Homo sapiens: one gene and its partners. The protein of the gene in region 4 purifies or fractionates together with the protein of the main gene of each other region. This does not show direct contact. Each region holds a gene or a part of one and is shown on either strand. Other genes may lie near its edges.

Region 1 (3,802 bases), on a different chromosome or scaffold from region 4:
GTATCTCTCCCCTTAGAACCATTCCAGAAAATCTCTGCTCTGCCCTCCCACCTCCATGCCCTCTCAGGTCACAGTGCCTGCCTTCCAATGCCATTATGTCGTTCCTAGACCCCACTGTTCTCCAGACCTCAGACATCCAGCTTGCTGCTCCTGACCCTATCCTTCCCTGCATCTTTCCCTTCCTCAGGAAGGAGTCTCGAGGGGGCCCTTCCCGCCGGGGTGTGGCCCTGCTTCGCCCAGAGCCCCTGCACCGGGGGACAGCAGACACCCTCCTCAACCGGGTTAAGAAGCTGCCTTGTCAGATCACCAGGTGGGAAACAGCAGCGAGGAGAGGCCCACTGGGGTGGAGGGGCCATTTCAGGAGTGCTCTGGGAGTGGGCGCTCCATTGTAAAATAGCTGTCACTCATTGGGCCTAGTGCTGTATGGTTTGTGTAGATCATTTATGGCAAAGTCATTTTTATCCATATTTATGTTTGAAGAAAAGAGGCTCAGAGAGGTCTGGAGTCTCAAATGTAGTAAGTAAAGAACTGGGATATGAACAAAAGCTCCTTCAGTGAGGCTGAAAAGGAGCAGTGGGGGTGGGGTGGGGGTGGGGAGGACACACACTTGTAGCTAGGGCAGGCTCTGGTAGCATCTGTGTACCCATCGTGGCCCCTCTGCCCTGTTGTTATTCCACCTTGGCTCCGGGCCCCTGTGTGCCTCAGTGTCTGCACCTGTGATGAACCTGCCCTGCAAGGTTGCTGAGGAGATTAAGTAAGGTAACATGTTCTGAAGGGCTCCTGCCTTGCCTGGGTGCTTGAGAGCACATGGTAAATCCCAAATAAAGCTCAGTCGTGGGTACTGATGATGTCAGAAGGAACGGAAATAACCACCTATATCTTATAGTGGAACAGACACTGGGAATTTTCTTTTGCTGGGAGTTAGGAGGCAGCTTCTAGAATACCAAGGAACAGGGTGGACTTAGTGGTTGGTTGTTGACAGTGTGCTAATTAGTCAGGGAGGCAAGCCATATTTGAGGTTTTGAATTATAACCATCATTTTTTAAAGCATTATTTATTTGGGGACCTTTAATATGTTGTACTTATATTTTAACAGAATCATAATCTGATGATAACTTTGCATTTACTTATTATGTATAGACAGTTACATCATAAAACTCTCAGAATTCTGTACATACAGGATATGTGTGCACTGAGCCACAATATAAAATGTTTATCTTACAAAGGTTGCAGTAAGAAAAGTTTGCAAAACACTAGCCTGGTACATATTTCATTAAGGCTTGAAAGAGGAAAGTAAAGCTGTGAAGGTCAGGGGTAAAGCAGGCCTTACAGTCTGTGAGTGCTAGGGCTGGGATGGTCCCCAGCACAGTCCCCAGGCCTCAACAGGGTTGGGGTTTGTTAACCTGTGTTCCCCACAGCTACCTGGTGGCGCACACCCTAGGGCGCCGGATGCTGTATCCAGGCTCTGTGTACCTGCTGCAGAAGGCCCTCATGCCTGTGCTGCTGCAGGGCCAGGCCCGACTGGTGGAAGAGGTGAGGCTTCCCTGCCCGCACATCCCCTAAAGCCCTCCCCTCTCACCCCCACCCACCCCGCCCCACCCCTGTGATGTGGCCTCCTGACCCTTGCATCTTGGCCATTGCGTCTTCCGTACTCAGTGTAATGGGCGCCGGGCAAAGCTGCTGGCCTGTGATGGCAATGAGATTGACACCATGTTTGTGGACCGGCGGGGGACAGCTGAGCCCCAGGGACAGAAGCTGGTAAGAGGGAGCAGAGAGCCCAGAGGTGGGGTGAGTGTGAGGAAGGCAGTAGAGGTCTGGGGACCCCAATGCTATAGCACCTCCCTGAAGGAACCACTACTGGGGATAATCTCATGTCCTAGCTCCACGCTAAAGACCTTGTGATGTAGTGAAACCCTGTGATAGAGAAACAGATGAAGTAGGAGAGACGTTCAAGGACGAGAAACTAATATTAATAGTTACCACTTTGACAGCACTTCACACTTATATATATTTAATTCTCATATATATATGAAGCATATATATTTAATTCTCAAAAGAATCCCGTGAGATAGGTACTGCTTATATTAGCCCATTTTACAGGAGATGAAACTGGGGCACAGAAAACCTTTCCTGGACCTCACAGTAAGTGGTAGAGCTGGTATTTGGACCCAGGCAGCCTGGCCTCAAAGTCTCCTACCTCCATGAAGCAGCCGTGGAAAGAGCGCTAAGCCAGGAGTCTAGGGAGCTGGGTTCTAGTCCTGGCTCTGCCCATCTGTTATGAGAGTTCATGCAAATCCCACCATTCGTGGGTTTCAGCTTGGGGCGCCATGGCATTACAGTTTATCTGACCATAAGACTGGAGCTCAGAGAGGGATAGGGAGAGCAATCAGCATACCACACAATAGCAATGGTCACAGAAGATAACAGACCCGAAAACGAGAAAGGAAAAACATCTCCATAGTCCCCTTCCTGAAAGAGATCCAGCTGGTAATCTTCCAAGGAAAAGACATGGCTGGGTGGTCGAGCAGGTCAGCCTCTGAGGAGTATTTGTAATCCCTTTGCTTCTCCTCTTATGGACCCTGTGGAATGAGAAGCTTCCATTCCCCTTGGAGAAAACAGAAACCTGCCCTTTCCTCTTCCCTGCAAAGCTCTTCATGGGCTGCCCTCCCTGCCCAAAGGGAGTTTTTCAGTCCCAACTTGGCCCCCCAGCCCTTCCTTCCTGCCTCCTTCCTAGGTGATCTGCTGTGAGGGGAATGCTGGGTTTTATGAGGTGGGCTGCGTCTCCACGCCCCTGGAAGGTAGGACGGTGACTCAGCCTCCTTATCTCCGCCCTTTGAAAGGGAATGTCCCTGCCTCCCACACTGACCTGACCTCCCCTGGCCTCTGCTTTCTCTGGGTGAGGTTTTGAGTCTCTCAGCTTTAGGGAAAAGTCCACTCGCCATTTGCTTTGATAACCTTACATCCCTCCCCTGGCCTGTGTCCCTAGCTATTATGCTTTTCATTCTGTTCCATTCCCCCACCACACACCCCACACAATCACATGCTGCTCCCTGTGCTGCCTCAGAACCTCTGGTGTCATCTCCTATTTCTGGGAAGGCTTGGAGTTATTTGCATCTAAGCTGGGGGGTACTTCTGCTCTTCCTTCCCCCAGGGATGGAGAAAGGGCTGTGGGCCACAAGGTCTCAGTCCCTCCTCCCCCTGTGTTACAGCTGGATATTCAGTCCTGGGCTGGAATCATCCAGGCTTTGCTGGAAGCACGGTGAGACCATCTCAGGAATCCCTTCCTTTTCCTGAATTATGTCTGTTTCCCTCTGGTCAGCCATTGGAGGGAGGAGAGGGGCTGTGGATTTCTTGAAGGCGTCCCACTCACCTGAGGGCTGGGGTCTAGGAGGTTGTGAAGGCAGCATTGGGAGCCATGCCCCCATCCCCACAGTGCGGGGCTAGCAGGAGAGGAGGAGGTAGATCTCATTGTACACATCCGTCTTCTGGAGAGAACAACCTCTCCTACCATCCCTTCCTTCTACACCTTCTCTGCCTGTCATAGGTGGCTGCAGGAGGGGTCCACGTTGGGAGGGACAGGTGAGCTGGCCTTTGGTGCTGACACACTCCTGACTTTGCCCTTTCTCCTGCAGGGGGTGCCATTCCCGCAGAATGAGGCTAATGCCATGGATGTGGTGGTCCAGTTTGCCATCCACCGCCTAGGCTTCCAGCCCCAGGACATCATCATCTACGCCTGGTCCATCGGCGGCTTCACTGGTACCAGCCTCCCTCCCATCCCCCACTGTAGACACATTCATGACCA
Region 2 (3,867 bases), on a different chromosome or scaffold from region 4:
GAGGTGCTTCCCGGAGTTCCCAGGTAGCCTGTGGGCTCAGAAGGATTCCTGAGACTGAGAGCAGTTTGAGTTGAAATGTTGGCTTAAATCTTGATGAATGAACATTTTCATATCCTGTTTCTAGGCCTGAGGGTTTTGTTGTTAATGTTGTGGTCTTTCTATTTTATGTCTCAACTTAGTGGAACAGGCAGTGTTGAGAAGTCAGGTATCATGGATTCTGGCCTCGGCTTTGCCATGGACCAGCTGTGTCACTTTGAACAAGTCATGGAATCATAGTAGGACTTTAGAGCAAACTTAGAGACTTGAGAGGAAACTTAGAGAAGAGCTGACCAAACCTCTTAGGTGTCAAAATAAGGCAATGAGTGAGGGTAGAAATGAGGTGAAGCAGAAAGGGTCTGCATGAGGTCAAGGCCCAAGGTCATCTGCACATCCCTGCAAAACACTGCCTGCCTGTGCTTTGGTTTTTGAGTCTGTAAAATGGACAATTTAGAGTAGATGGCCTTAATTATTCGTCCATCCACAGATTTCACGTTTCTGTTTCTACCCTGTACGTCAGTTGGATTATTTAATTTTCTGTGTAGTAGATTCTACCTGACCAAGTTCAATAAAGAAAATAAGTGTGTCTTTCGTCCTTAGAGTTTCATTCCAGGGCTTTATATTACAAGTTGGCAGTGGAGCAGCTGCAGAGCCATCCCGAGGCACAGGAAGCTCTGGGCCCTCCTCTCAACATCCATTATCTCAAGCTCATCGACAGGGAAAACTTCGTGGACATTGTTGATGCCAAGGTAATGTGCTTTCCCTGCGAACCGCAGGCTGGTGCCTGCTGAAGGAGAGGAGAGTCTACTGTCTCCTGGAAAGTCCTGGAGTTAAGGATTTGGGATGGGAAAATCCACTAAGTAAAGCTAGGTTTGGCACCTTTAAAAAAAGTTTTTCTATTATGGATTTTAATGTTTATATAAAATATATTTTATATTATAGATATTTCTGTATACTTTTCTTCCATTCTGGGGAATTGATGTGGCAGGGAATGCAGTGGGTATGCTGATGTCGCCATCTTGAATTGAAGGTAGTAGAGAAATGACCAGTGGTGGTTTGCTACCATGTTGGCTTTGATAGCTCTCAGCACTTTGGGAGGCTGAGGTAAGAGGATTGCTTGAGCCCTGGGGTTTGAAACCAGCCTGGGCAACACAGCAAGACCCTGTCTCTCTCTCTCTCTCTCTCTCTCTCTCTCTCTCTGTCTCTCTGCCTGCCTGCCTGCCTGCCTGCCTGCCTGCCTATCTATCTATCTATCTATCTATCTATCTATCTATCTATCTATCTATCTAATCTATCTATCTATAATTTAGCCAGGCGTGATAGTGCACACCTATAATCCCAGCTACCCAGGAGGCTGAAGCAGGAGGATCGCTTGAACCCAGGAGTTGGAGGCTGCAATGAGTTATGATCATGTCACTGCACTCCATCCTGGGTGACAGAGTGAAATTGTCTGTAAAATTAAAAAAAAAAGAGAAATGCATCTATATCCAGTCAGTGCTCATTCAAATGTACCCAACTCTTTAAACTTTGATTTTTAAAGTGTATTTATTTACATTGCTTCCACAGAATACCAACCCATTTTTTTAGCTATAACTTATCTTTTTGTACTTGATCACACTCACTTGCATGTAAAACACATTTGTTCTGTTTAACAAACATATTTTGAGTATATGCTCTGGTTTGAGAAATGATTCTAAGCTATGTGGGGAATAGAGGTGCAGAAGGCTTTTGGGGGTTTACAGTTGAAAATTCCTGAGTAAGACAGGGTGAGGGAAACCCTGTCACTATTGTGCAGGCCTAGGGGAAGTGGCTCGAGGCCTGGGAGATGGCTGTGAGGACTTTGAAAGGTGGAGAGGAACACCCGGCTGAGGAGCAGCATGCCTGGGAAAGTTCATCACTGTGTCGCCTGTCAGTGTGATACGGCAGTGGAGGCACAGGTGGGCGAGGTGGGTGTGGGCAGGTAGGAGGGGCTGCGGCCACCAGGGGCCACAGTGTCATCTTGGAAGGTGTGTGCTTGACTCTGGCAGCAGAAGCCCGTAAAGTATTTGGAGGATGAGTGAGGTGATCCGACCTACATTATTTTTTGTTATTTTTAGTATGTTCTTAATGGACCCAGCTCTAATGAGACTTTTTTCTAACTACAAAAGCAATTCATGCTCTGGTATTCTGATTAAAATATTCGGTTTTAAAAGAAGGTGGATTTGTGTAGATTGGTAATGCCCAGGGACTGGCTACGGGGAGCCATCTTTAGGAGAGAGATGTGGCCACACTGGTGTGCAGTGGTGAGAGCATGAACCAGAGGTGTGGCCTGGAGAAGCAAAAGACGGATGTGAAGCCATCGTGGCATCCAAGTGACAGAACTTGGTAACAGTCATGTATCAGGAGCGGGTGGGTCAGAGGTGATGGTCCAGTGTCCAGCATGGACGTGAGTGGAAGGACGGCAGCGACACTGCGTGAGAGAGGACATCCTGGAGGAGGAGCACAGGGAAGGGCTGGGCATGTGTGGAGTGCTCACTCTGTGCCAGGCCACCGGATTGCTCCCATGGTGTGGCGGAGCCTGTCTGTTGCTTCCTTGCCTTTGGTCACTTGGCTAGACCCCAGCAATCCTGAGAACTTGGAAAAGCCACTGGGTAGGTCTGGCTGTTGCGTTTCTCTCAGCACAGAGCCCAGCTGTAGCACTGAGGAATTGTGTGCCAAAGGCGCCTTTGCTGGGGCTGGTTGATGCAGCATCCATGATCTGGTGCTCCAGGAACCCCAGTGAGAGTAGGGTAAGGCCATGGTGGTTTTGGTGGGAGCTTTGTCCTGTCCAGCTTTCACTTTGGCCCCAGTGGTGCTGAGAGGGCGCCTTCCTGGGCTTCCCCACATCCCTGGGGCCTTGGCCATGCTGTGACTATGTTGGTTGTGGTGCTAGGTTCTGGCTTCTACTGCGGCCAAATGCTGTGACTCTGCAGTGACAGGAGTTCAGAGTCTGCTGCATCATGGCCACCTGGAGCCTCAGTGCACGCCTTCCAATTTGTGGACTATTTTTGACATTCTGTCAGGGTCCTTTCTTTATAATCAGCGGTTTGTGAGGATGCCTGTATACAGCATATGCCCTCTTATCCCAAATTCCTTTATTTGCAATTTTTACAGTTTTTCCAGAGGTGAGATGTTTCAGTTGTTCATGAAGTAATTGTCATACATTGGGATTTTTTCCCAAGTATGTGTGTGAGATAGTCACCAGTGACCAACACTTTGCTTTACCAGAACTCCTGCTTTAATCTTTGGCAAGGTCTGGCTGGTGAAGGAACCAACCTGTAAAGTGTCACATCTACCCATGGAAGCACAGCTGCCCACAGTTCAGACATTGGCCCCTCAGAGTTTGCTCTTCTTCAGAATCCTTCTTGCTTCTGCCCATTTCTTTCTCCTTCCTTTTTAAATTTTTTTTTAAAGCATCCAGAGATGCTCAGTGTATACTCTGTTGCTTAATTCTATAATTTCCAGAGAAAAGCTGTAGCTTGACTCAAACAGTGGGACCCTGAAAATTTGTTCTTTTTTAAAATTTTTTCTTGAGATGGAACCTTGCTCTGTTACCCAGGCTGGAGTACAGTGGTGTGATCTTGGCACACTGCAGCCTCCACCTCCCAGGTTCAAGCGATTCTCCTGCCTCACTCTCCTGAGTAGCTGGGACTATAGGTGTGCGCCACCATGCCCGGCTAAGTGTTTGTATTTCTAGTAGAGATGGGGTTTTGCCATATTGCCCAGCTGATCTCGAACTCCTGGCCTCAAGTGATCCACCTGCCTCAGCCTCCCAAAGTGCTGGGATTACAGGCGGAAGCCACCATACCCGGC
Region 3 (4,577 bases), about 39 Mb from region 4:
CTCAAATATGCCGTGTACCTTCCCACTATAGGGGCTTTGCACTTGCCATTCTTTCCACCTGGAATGCTCTTCCTCCAGATACTCACCTGGCTCACTCCTCAATTCCTCAGCTTTCTGCTCACATATCATCTCCTTGCAGGGGCCTTCTCTTTCTAAAATGTCCCCTCCCCTCTATCATTCATTATCCCCTGCTTTATTTTCTTCTTTATACAAGTTATCATTTACTAGCATTATCCACATTTACTTGGCTGTTTCTGTTGACCTCCCACTGCTGGAATATAAGCTCCATGAGGGTGGGGACTCTGTCTTGTTTCCCATTGTATCTTCAGCACCCAGAGAAGTACCTGGCATACAGCTGTTGCTCAATAACTATTTGCTGAATTAATACAAATGTTAAGGCTGAGATTGGAACCTGAGTAACCTTCCTTCAGAGAATCTTCCCACTATGTTATATGAGGGGCAGAGAAGCCGGGGCTAGAAGCAGGGTTGGAGCTAGGGAGTAGGGGTCAGGGTCAGGACAGAATAACTGACCTTGACAGTGCAGATGAGCACTCGGCCGGGCGCTACCATGTTGAGGAATAGCACCATGGCCTCATCCTCATGAGGTGAGTACGTGTCAAACACACGTTTTGCCATCACGTGGCCCTGGCAGGGGATATACTTCTGGTGAGTTGGTGTCATCAGCAAGAGCCCAGCTCCAGCCCTCTGGGTCACCCACCCCTAGAAACTCACCGTGGCCTGGTTGAGGACAATGACATGGATGCCCCGGCCCTGCTCCCGGGCCTCATCCTCCAGCACCTACACAGTGGCAGAGACAAAGTCCAGCTTTTCACTCTGGCATTCAAGGTGTCTCTGTCTTAGGGGTACTTAAAACACCAGCTGCTTGAAACATCACCTCCTGCCTATGTTTCTGTTCACACAGTTCTTTTCCAACTCAGCTCGAAGGCCACCTCTTCCAGAAAGCCTCTATAGCACTCCCATCAGAAGAGATCACGTCTTTCTACAACCCTCCCCTCCATGACTTTCATGGCTCTTAGAGCCTCTGCTGTCTCTGCTTCATCCTGGAAGTATCACAATCCTCCACCACACTGAACCCCTCAAGGTAGGGCCAGGTCTGATTACTTTCAGGTCCCCAGTGCCCAGCACAAGGCTGAGGCCAAAGAAAGGACCAGGGGATGGTTATAAAATAAATCAATGAATTGACTGCCTACTATTATGAATGATTACTTTTGAGATCCCACTACATACAAGACACTTCACAAACTTTTCATTGAATCCTGACAAGTAGAAATCATTAGTCCCAGTCTATAGATAAGGAATCGAGGACTCCAAAGTCACACAGCTAGAAACTGGCAGAGTTGCAGTTCCCACTTAGGCAGTAGACCCTGCTGCCAGTGGACCATGCCCTGAGCAGAATAGAGTGACTGTACACCAGACCCTGGCCCACTGACCGTGGTGCCATCCACTGCCACATATACTTTGCTGCGACTTGAATACACCTCTACGTCCAGGACCCGCCGGGGACCACTGCCTCTGCGCCGTGGGGGCTCCAGGCGGCCTAGGGCCTCATCTGTGGGGTACAACAGGTCATGGAGATAGTCTCCTCAGCAGAGTCTCACCGCTTAGGGTCTGCCTGCCACTCCAGCTGTGAGATCCAAGGCCCCCTACCCCATCCTTAGCCTAGCCCTACCATAGTCTTGCTCTGGCTCTGGGTCTTCATTGGCTTCACTGATGGCTCGCCGAGTGTCCAGGATCAACTTGATATTGACAATGACAGTCACCAGCAGGAAAAGCACGGCCCCTGTCTGAGGGGAGGGGTAGGGATGATTAAGAGGAGCACCTCCTTCAGATCCTAGAGGGTCTTTCTGAAAGGAGGGCCCTGGCTGCAGTGAAGACATCCAGAGAAACTGGGTCCTGTCCCTTCCTCTGTCTGCCTAGCTCTACTCCCCTGACCAGGGCCTAGTTTCACAGCCACTTTCCCCAGGGAACCTCCCCTGACACTTCCCCCTCCATTAGGGCCCTCCCTACCCAGTGCTCCTGTATTCTTCTATTTGAGACCTTGATTTCCTTGGTCCCCTCCATTGTTGGTTTCTAGAGATGGAGCCAGGCCCAGGGACCCAAGCGGGGGATCAGACCTGGGTCCTGGCCCTAACTGCCTCACAGGGGTGTGCCTCTCTGCAAAGCCAGCCTGATCAGACTTCAGGCTTCCGTCAGAAGCTTAGAAGTTGTACTTGGGTTCCGATTCCAGAACTTTGGGTTCAAATCATTACCTATAGGGACATGACACATAGAGGTCTCCCCTCTAGGAACCTGCTGCCCCTTTCCCACTGGGGCTGGCCAACAGGGGTCCCAGTGCCTGATTTAGGTGGGGAGGAAGCTGGGAGGGAGCGCTCGGTGGGGAGGGTTTGGGACATCTCTATACCTGACAGAATCTCCGCAGGGCCCGCTGGTTTGTCAGTTTATACTTCCAGGTAAGGTACCAGCTCCGCTTCTTCCGAGCCCCAAAGGGCTTGATGAGGGGGCTGGGCTTCCAGTCGTCCATACCGGATTGGCGGGTCACCAATGTCCTGGCCAGCCCATGACTTCAGGAATCTGAAGGGACCAGAGGGCCACATGGGGTAAGATGCTCCTCCCAAAGTCTGATGCCTTCTGGGGAGATGAGGGAGGACCTCCCAGCAACTCTTCCCTGCAAGCACCCATACTGTGTGACATGGGGAAAGTGGCTCAACTTCTCTGGGCTGGCAGGAAACCCTTCAGTGGGGTTGGATCACCTGGAAATTCCCTGAGACTGGAGTAACTCTCTGAATCAAGGCTGTCCAAGGGTGGAGGCCAAATAATCGGCTCAAAGTTCGTTAGCCCCTACAAGGACCAAGTTCCAGGCCTTCCCAAGCCTGTGGTGAGCAAAGAGCGACCTCTCCTGCCCCAGTCTTCAACCCTCGTCCCATCCTATCTGCCCCAGCTTCTCTCCTCCTCCCAGGGCCCGGAGCCGCCCGAGGGCTCAGGAGACCTGCACCGGCAGCGCTACCCGTTCCGGACACCCACGCGGAGGCACTCACGGCTTAGGGGCCCCGGGCCCCGCTCGGGCCCCGCTAGGGCCCTCACTGCTCGGCCCGGCTCGCCGCGGCCTCCGCCTCCTCCATGCCGCTTGCGGCCCCGCCCCGGCCTGGCCCGCCCCCCCGCTTCCGCCGCCGCCGCCGCCGCCGCTGCCGCGGGGTGAGAGGGCGACGGGCGGTGCTTAGGGCGGCGGCGGCGGCGGCGGCGGTGGCGGCAGCGGCGTCGGGGTGTAAGCAGCCAGCGAGTAAGGCGAATGCTCAGACCGTGCTAGGCAGCTTCGCAGCCCGGCTGGCTGGTGGGGCTGCCTGCACGAGAGCAGCCCGCTCCCCAGCACCGCCGATGGCAAGCCCGACTCCAGTCAGAGGCCTAGCACCTTGGACCAGATCACAGGGCACGCCAGGGTCAGAGGGGCTGCAACCCTTGGACACAGGGCACACACCACCCGCCCCATACCCGTCCTGGGCAAGGCCGTTACCTAGTCCTGGGGCATGCACAGCTATTGGAGGCCAAGGGAGATTAAAATCCAGGTTCTGTCACTGTTCTAAGCACCTTACTGATGATGTTTAATTCCACAACAACCCCATGAGGTAGGCGCTATTATCATTATTATTGTTTTTTTTTTAATTGAGACGGAGTCTCGCTCTGTCGCCCAGGCTGGAGTGCAGTGGCACCATCTCGGCTCGCTGCAACCTCCGCCTTCTGGGTTCAAGCGATTCTCCTGCCTCAGCCTCCTGAGTAGCTGGGACTACGGTCGTGCGCCACCACACCCAGCTAATTTTTATATTTTTAGTAGAGACGGGGTTTCACCATGTTGGCCAGGCTGGTCTTGAACTTCTGACCTCAAGTGATCCGCCCGCCTTGGCCTCCCAAAGTGCTGGGATTATGGGCAGTGAGCCACCGTGCTGGCTATAGGCGCTATTACTATCCCTGTCGCAGATAAAGAAATAAGACCTAATATCACAAAGCTAGGAGAGGTGGAATTGAAACTCAGCCTAGCTCCAGATTCTGCTCTTAACCACTGCACTCTGCTGGCAACAATACATAAGAATTGCCAGGTTTAAATAACATCATACATAGAAAGCAGTTAGCTTAACACAATGGTTCTCAAACTTTAGCTTGCGTCAGAATCACCTGGATGACTTCTTAAAACAGAGGTGCTGGGCCCCATCCCTAGAGTTTTAGATTCAGTGGTCTGGGGCAGGGTGGGATTTTGCATTCCTGAGAAGTTTCTAGGTGATGTTGATGCTTGTTTGAAGTGGATAGCCATAGAACAGTTTTAGGCAGGGGAGCAATATAATCCAATTTCTGTTTTAAGAGAACCTTTACTTTTTTTGTGGAGAATGGGTTGGAAGCAGACAGAGGAAGCCAGAAGACCAGTTAGATTTTTTTGAGCTTTCTGTATTCCATCTGCTTCCTGAATGGTGGGGTAATATCCCCCAAAATGAAATGTTAACAGTACTTGTCTTAGGAGTTAAAGAAATACATGATTTTTCCTAGTAAGTATGTATAAGAATGGAAGAAAA
Region 4 (4,170 bases):
AAATTTGGAAGCTGTCAGCATAGAGGTGGTATTTGAAATATGGGACTGGTTGAAGTCAGCTGTGGAGAGAATGTGGATAGAGGTCAAGGCCTGAACCCAAAGATAGGCCAAAATATAGAGGTTGGCAGTGGGAGGATTTCAGCAAAGGAGACCAAGAAGAAACAATCAGTGTCCCAGAAGTCAAGTAAAGAAAGTATTCCGTGTAGGAGGAGCATTCAACTGCATCAAATACCATGGAGATGTCAAGTTATAGGAGGACTGAGAACTAGGCATCAGATTTGGTAATACACTGCTCATTAGTGACCTTGACAAGGTCCAACTCAAAATCCATCCCATATTAGAAATTATTTTATTCATTTGTCATAGCATGCTTCACTCATATCTTTTAGCAGAATTATTTTCTATGTGTCGATCACACAAAGTTGTTCATTTCAAGAGTGACAGAATGACCAACTGTACCAGACATATTGCTCCAAAAACACTTTGTTTTGGAAACATGTCTGCAGACATCCATTAAGAATTTAAGATGACAGTTATTCCAAGGCACCGTAAGATTCTTACTTGTAAAAGTAATTTTTTTAAATGTAGAGGACCCACTAGGATAGGCAATATTGGTATAAAGGTGATTAAATTATAATCTTGCAAAGATAAAGGTTAAACCAATACTTTCTTTAAAAAAGGTTTTGCTGGCTAGCCTATAATAATTGTATCCCACTTCTTATACTACAGTGTTAAAGTAGAACTCTGACCTTACAGGAGATAGTTTAAAGATAAATATGTATTTACATTGAATATCACCTGAATTAAACATAATTCTTTAAGGGAGGAAAGAAATGCAAAGAGTATGTGGCTTCAGACTTTAATTTTACAGATCAGGAACTAGAAGGTCAGAAAGTTTGTCACAGAAATGAGGCTTGAATCTAGAACTCTAATTTGTGAGTGCCCTTTGCCTTCCTAGTGCACAGCAGCAAGTCACTTACCCTGTTTATCAAAGTGAATGTCTCTATCCCAAGGGAACCTGCCAGGATCAGAGGTGGGGAGGGAGGGGAGTTATGGCTTCACTCCTGCCCTGGCTGGCATTCCCATTTTCTGTTTCTCATTTTGGTTGAAGTACTTGCAGCTATACAATGTCTCCGTTGGGAATCATGCTTATGAGAACAAAGGTACCAAGCAATCTGCTATGGCAATCTGTCAGCACTTCTACAAGCGAGGAAACATCTACCCTGGAAATGATACCTTTGACATCGATCCAGAAATTGAAACTGGTGATGTTCTTCTATAACCTAGAACCTCAATTTTTAACACCTCAATTTATATTTAAAATTAGTAATTTCATCTTTGAAAACATTGATTTGGTCTGTGATATTAGGACATAGTAAGAATGATATACGAGTTATTATGTGTCAGGTACTGTTCTGAGCCCTTTACTATAACTCAAGAATCCTCAAGGAAACCCAGCAAGTCAAGGATTATTATTATCCCCTTTTATAGAAGACTAAATTATGGCTCAGAGAGTTAAATGATCTGCCAAAGATGGAGCTAGAAGAGGCAGTGCTGAAATTGGGCTCAGGCTGTTTGTGTTCTTAGCTATCGTATTCCACCATCTCTTGTGCAGGATATGCCAGTGAAGTATTAATAGATAGATATAATGTTTGTAAAACATTATGCTTGCAAACTCTTGGTATATATAAAACTCTCCTGCCCCAATACCACTTCACTATCATGCATCTTTGGGGGTAGATTGAAGGGGAGGAATGAAAATCAGAACATGGAATAGCATGGCGTATTCTTCTTAGCAAAGTTCTATTTGCAATTATGCCTAAAATATTAGCTTAGGTCATTGAGTTAAAAAATAAGTATTGAAATACTTTTAACAACAGCCACTAGGATTTTTTTTTCTAGAGATAATACTGATAACAGTACTGAAAGGGAAAACTTTCTAAAATGCTGTCTTCCTTTTTTGGTGTGTGTGTGGGATGTCTATTGAAGAAACATTGTTAGTGCATAATATTTTAAAAATAGATCCCTCAAACTGCTTAGAAAATATTACTGTAATTACTGCAAGTGCTTCAAATCCTATGCTTAGGATACAAAAAGGGGGAGGGACTCAAAGTTTATCTAGGCTTAAAAACGAAGACAGCATTTATATAACATTAATGAAATAGAGTTCAGATCTTTGTCTAGCCTCCATCCACTCCAGAAATGTAGCCACTTAGGTCTTAAAAACACATGAGTCACGGTAACCATGTGGTATCAATGTTTATTTAGCTTTTAAAATTTTAATTCAGAAAAATAATAGAATCTGAAAAATAATAGAATCTGAATAACTGGTCTTAAATGTATCAGCCTTTCAAAATGCAGTCTTATTTAAGTACTGTATCATGTTTTTGTTCCTTTCTATGGCAGAGTGTTTCTTTGTGGAGCCAGATGAACCTTTTCACATTGGGACACCAGCAGAAAATAAACTGAACTTAACACTGGACTTCCACAGGTGAGGGGAGCAGACAGGAGTGTAACTTACGTTTGCACGTATATATTGCCACAGAACTAAAATCACCTCTGTTTTCTAGACTCCTAACAGTGGAGCTTCAGTTTAAACTGAAAGCCATTAATCTGCAGACAGTTCGTCATCAAGAACTCCCTGACTGTTATGACTTTACTCTGACTGTAAGTGTGGGCCAGGCTGAATTTGGTTCCAGTCTGGAGAAAAATTGTTTTATCTGGTAATGTTTCATATCCTTGGATTACGGTGTGATAAAAAAATATAGGATGTTTTCACTTGAATGTGCATAAGGGAAGCATTGATACATCTAGCTCTATTTTGCTATAATAACAAGTTTACTTGTTAGTTATGTCTTCTACACCTCTGTATAAGTTCTAGAAAAGCAGGGACCTTGTTTTGTTCACTACTATTTCCAGTACCACGAACAGTGCCTGGTATAGATTTTCAAACCCAAAAGGAATAGGTGTTTTTAGGTTCTGTGTGGTTGGCTCTCAGCAATCTATGGCTGGCTGTCAGCTAAAGGTTACTGCCAAGGGTTCTTGTTACTTAGTGTCTTCACCATGGATGTTTCCATGTTTGGGGTTTGTAGTATACATCTTTAACTTATTACAGTCTACCTTCAAGTTATACCACTGCACACAGTGTAAGAACCTTACGACAATGTACTTCCATTTCTCCCATCTTGGCCCTCATGCTATTGTGGCCATATAATGTATTTCTACATGTGTTATAAACCCACAATATATGTTATTAATCTCTCTCTCTCTCTCTCTCTTCTTTTTTTGAGACAGAGTCTCGCTCTGTCACCTAGGCTGGAGTGCAGTGGCGCGATCTCGGCTCACTGCAAGCTCCGCCTCCCGGGTTCACGCCATTCTCCTGCCTCAGCCTCCTGAGTAGCTGGGACCACAGGCGTCCGCCACCATGCCCGGCTAATTTTTTGTATTTTTTTTTAGCAGAGACGGGGTTTCACCGCGTTAGCCAGGATGGTCTCGATCTTCTGACTTCGTGATCCACCTGCCTCAGCCTCCCGAAGTGCTGGGATTACAGGCGTGAGCCACCGTGCCCAGCCTATTTTTTCTTTAAACAGTCAATTATCTTTTAAAGTGATTTAAATAATAATAAAAACATTTTTTTATTTGCCCATGTAGCTACCATTTCCAGTGTGCTTCATTCTGTGTGTAGCTCCCAGTTTGTATCTGGTATTATTTTCCTTCTGCCTGAAGGGCTTCCTGCAACATTTCTTACAGTGCAGGTCTGCACTTTCAGCTTTTGTATGTTTAAAAAAGTATTTTGCCTTCCTTTTTAAAGTTCTTATTAGCATCTTTTAAATAAAAATTTTACGAATACGTATTTATGGGGTACAGGTGATATTTTGATGCCAGCATTCAGTGTGTAATGATGAAATAAGGGTAATTGGGACAACATTCACCACCTCAAATATTTACCACTTTTTTATGTTGAGAATATTCTAAATCTACTCCTCTATTTATATTGAAATATAAAATAAATTATTAACTATAGTTGCCATATTGTGCTACTAAACACTAGATCTTATTTCTCCCATCTCACTGTATTTTTTTTTTTTTTTTTGAGATGGATTCTCGCTCCATTGCCAGGCTGGAGTGCAGTGGTGTGATCTTGGCTCACTGCAACCTCTGCCTCCCGGG

The links. The genes of interacting proteins can lie anywhere in the genome.
Region 1: the proteins of MCOLN3 (region 4) and ABHD16A purify together in Homo sapiens (affinity purification with mass spectrometry; 3 studies listed by BioGRID and IntAct, with this or other methods). This does not show direct contact.
Region 2: the proteins of MCOLN3 (region 4) and COA1 purify together in Homo sapiens (affinity purification with mass spectrometry; 3 studies listed by BioGRID and IntAct, with this or other methods). This does not show direct contact.
Region 3: the proteins of MCOLN3 (region 4) and POMGNT1 purify together in Homo sapiens (affinity purification with mass spectrometry; 3 studies listed by BioGRID and IntAct, with this or other methods). This does not show direct contact.

The regions. Positions count from the first base shown.
Region 1 is NC_000006.12:31,689,535-31,693,336, reverse strand, and holds part of ABHD16A (phosphatidylserine lipase ABHD16A), read left to right. Parts: intron 1-187; coding exon 188-310; intron 311-1,418; coding exon 1,419-1,533; intron 1,534-1,656; coding exon 1,657-1,758; intron 1,759-2,020; exon of another isoform or gene 2,021-2,579; intron 2,580-2,734; coding exon 2,735-2,798; intron 2,799-3,209; coding exon 3,210-3,259; intron 3,260-3,370; exon of another isoform or gene 3,371-3,632; coding exon 3,633-3,756; intron 3,757-3,802. UniProt on the Homo sapiens protein: Phosphatidylserine (PS) lipase that mediates the hydrolysis of phosphatidylserine to generate lysophosphatidylserine (LPS). LPS constitutes a class of signaling lipids that regulates immunological and neurological processes.
Region 2 is NC_000007.14:43,642,169-43,646,035, reverse strand, and holds part of COA1 (cytochrome c oxidase assembly factor 1 homolog), read left to right. Parts: intron 1-636; coding exon 637-785; exon of another isoform or gene 786-790; intron 791-3,867. UniProt on the Homo sapiens protein: Component of the MITRAC (mitochondrial translation regulation assembly intermediate of cytochrome c oxidase complex) complex, that regulates cytochrome c oxidase assembly.
Region 3 is NC_000001.11:46,195,280-46,199,856, forward strand, and holds the start of POMGNT1 (protein O-linked-mannose beta-1,2-N-acetylglucosaminyltransferase 1), read right to left. Parts: upstream 3,156-4,577; 5' UTR 3,057-3,155; exon of another isoform or gene 2,772-3,056; intron 2,593-2,771; 5' UTR 2,543-2,592; coding exon 2,423-2,542; intron 2,271-2,422; exon of another isoform or gene 2,083-2,270; coding exon of another isoform or gene 2,029-2,082; intron 1,806-2,028; coding exon 1,691-1,805; intron 1,571-1,690; coding exon 1,452-1,570; intron 1,211-1,451; exon of another isoform or gene 1,022-1,210; coding exon of another isoform or gene 923-1,021; intron 799-922; coding exon 733-798; intron 646-732; coding exon 532-645; intron 1-531. Other genes in the region: TSPAN1 (tetraspanin-1), read left to right, coding at 923-1,021. UniProt on the Homo sapiens protein: Participates in O-mannosyl glycosylation by catalyzing the addition of N-acetylglucosamine to O-linked mannose on glycoproteins.
Region 4 is NC_000001.11:85,031,193-85,035,362, reverse strand, and holds part of MCOLN3 (mucolipin-3), read left to right. Parts: intron 1-1,111; coding exon 1,112-1,265; intron 1,266-2,406; coding exon 2,407-2,491; intron 2,492-2,570; coding exon 2,571-2,667; intron 2,668-4,170. UniProt on the Homo sapiens protein: Nonselective cation channel probably playing a role in the regulation of membrane trafficking events. Acts as a Ca(2+)-permeable cation channel with inwardly rectifying activity.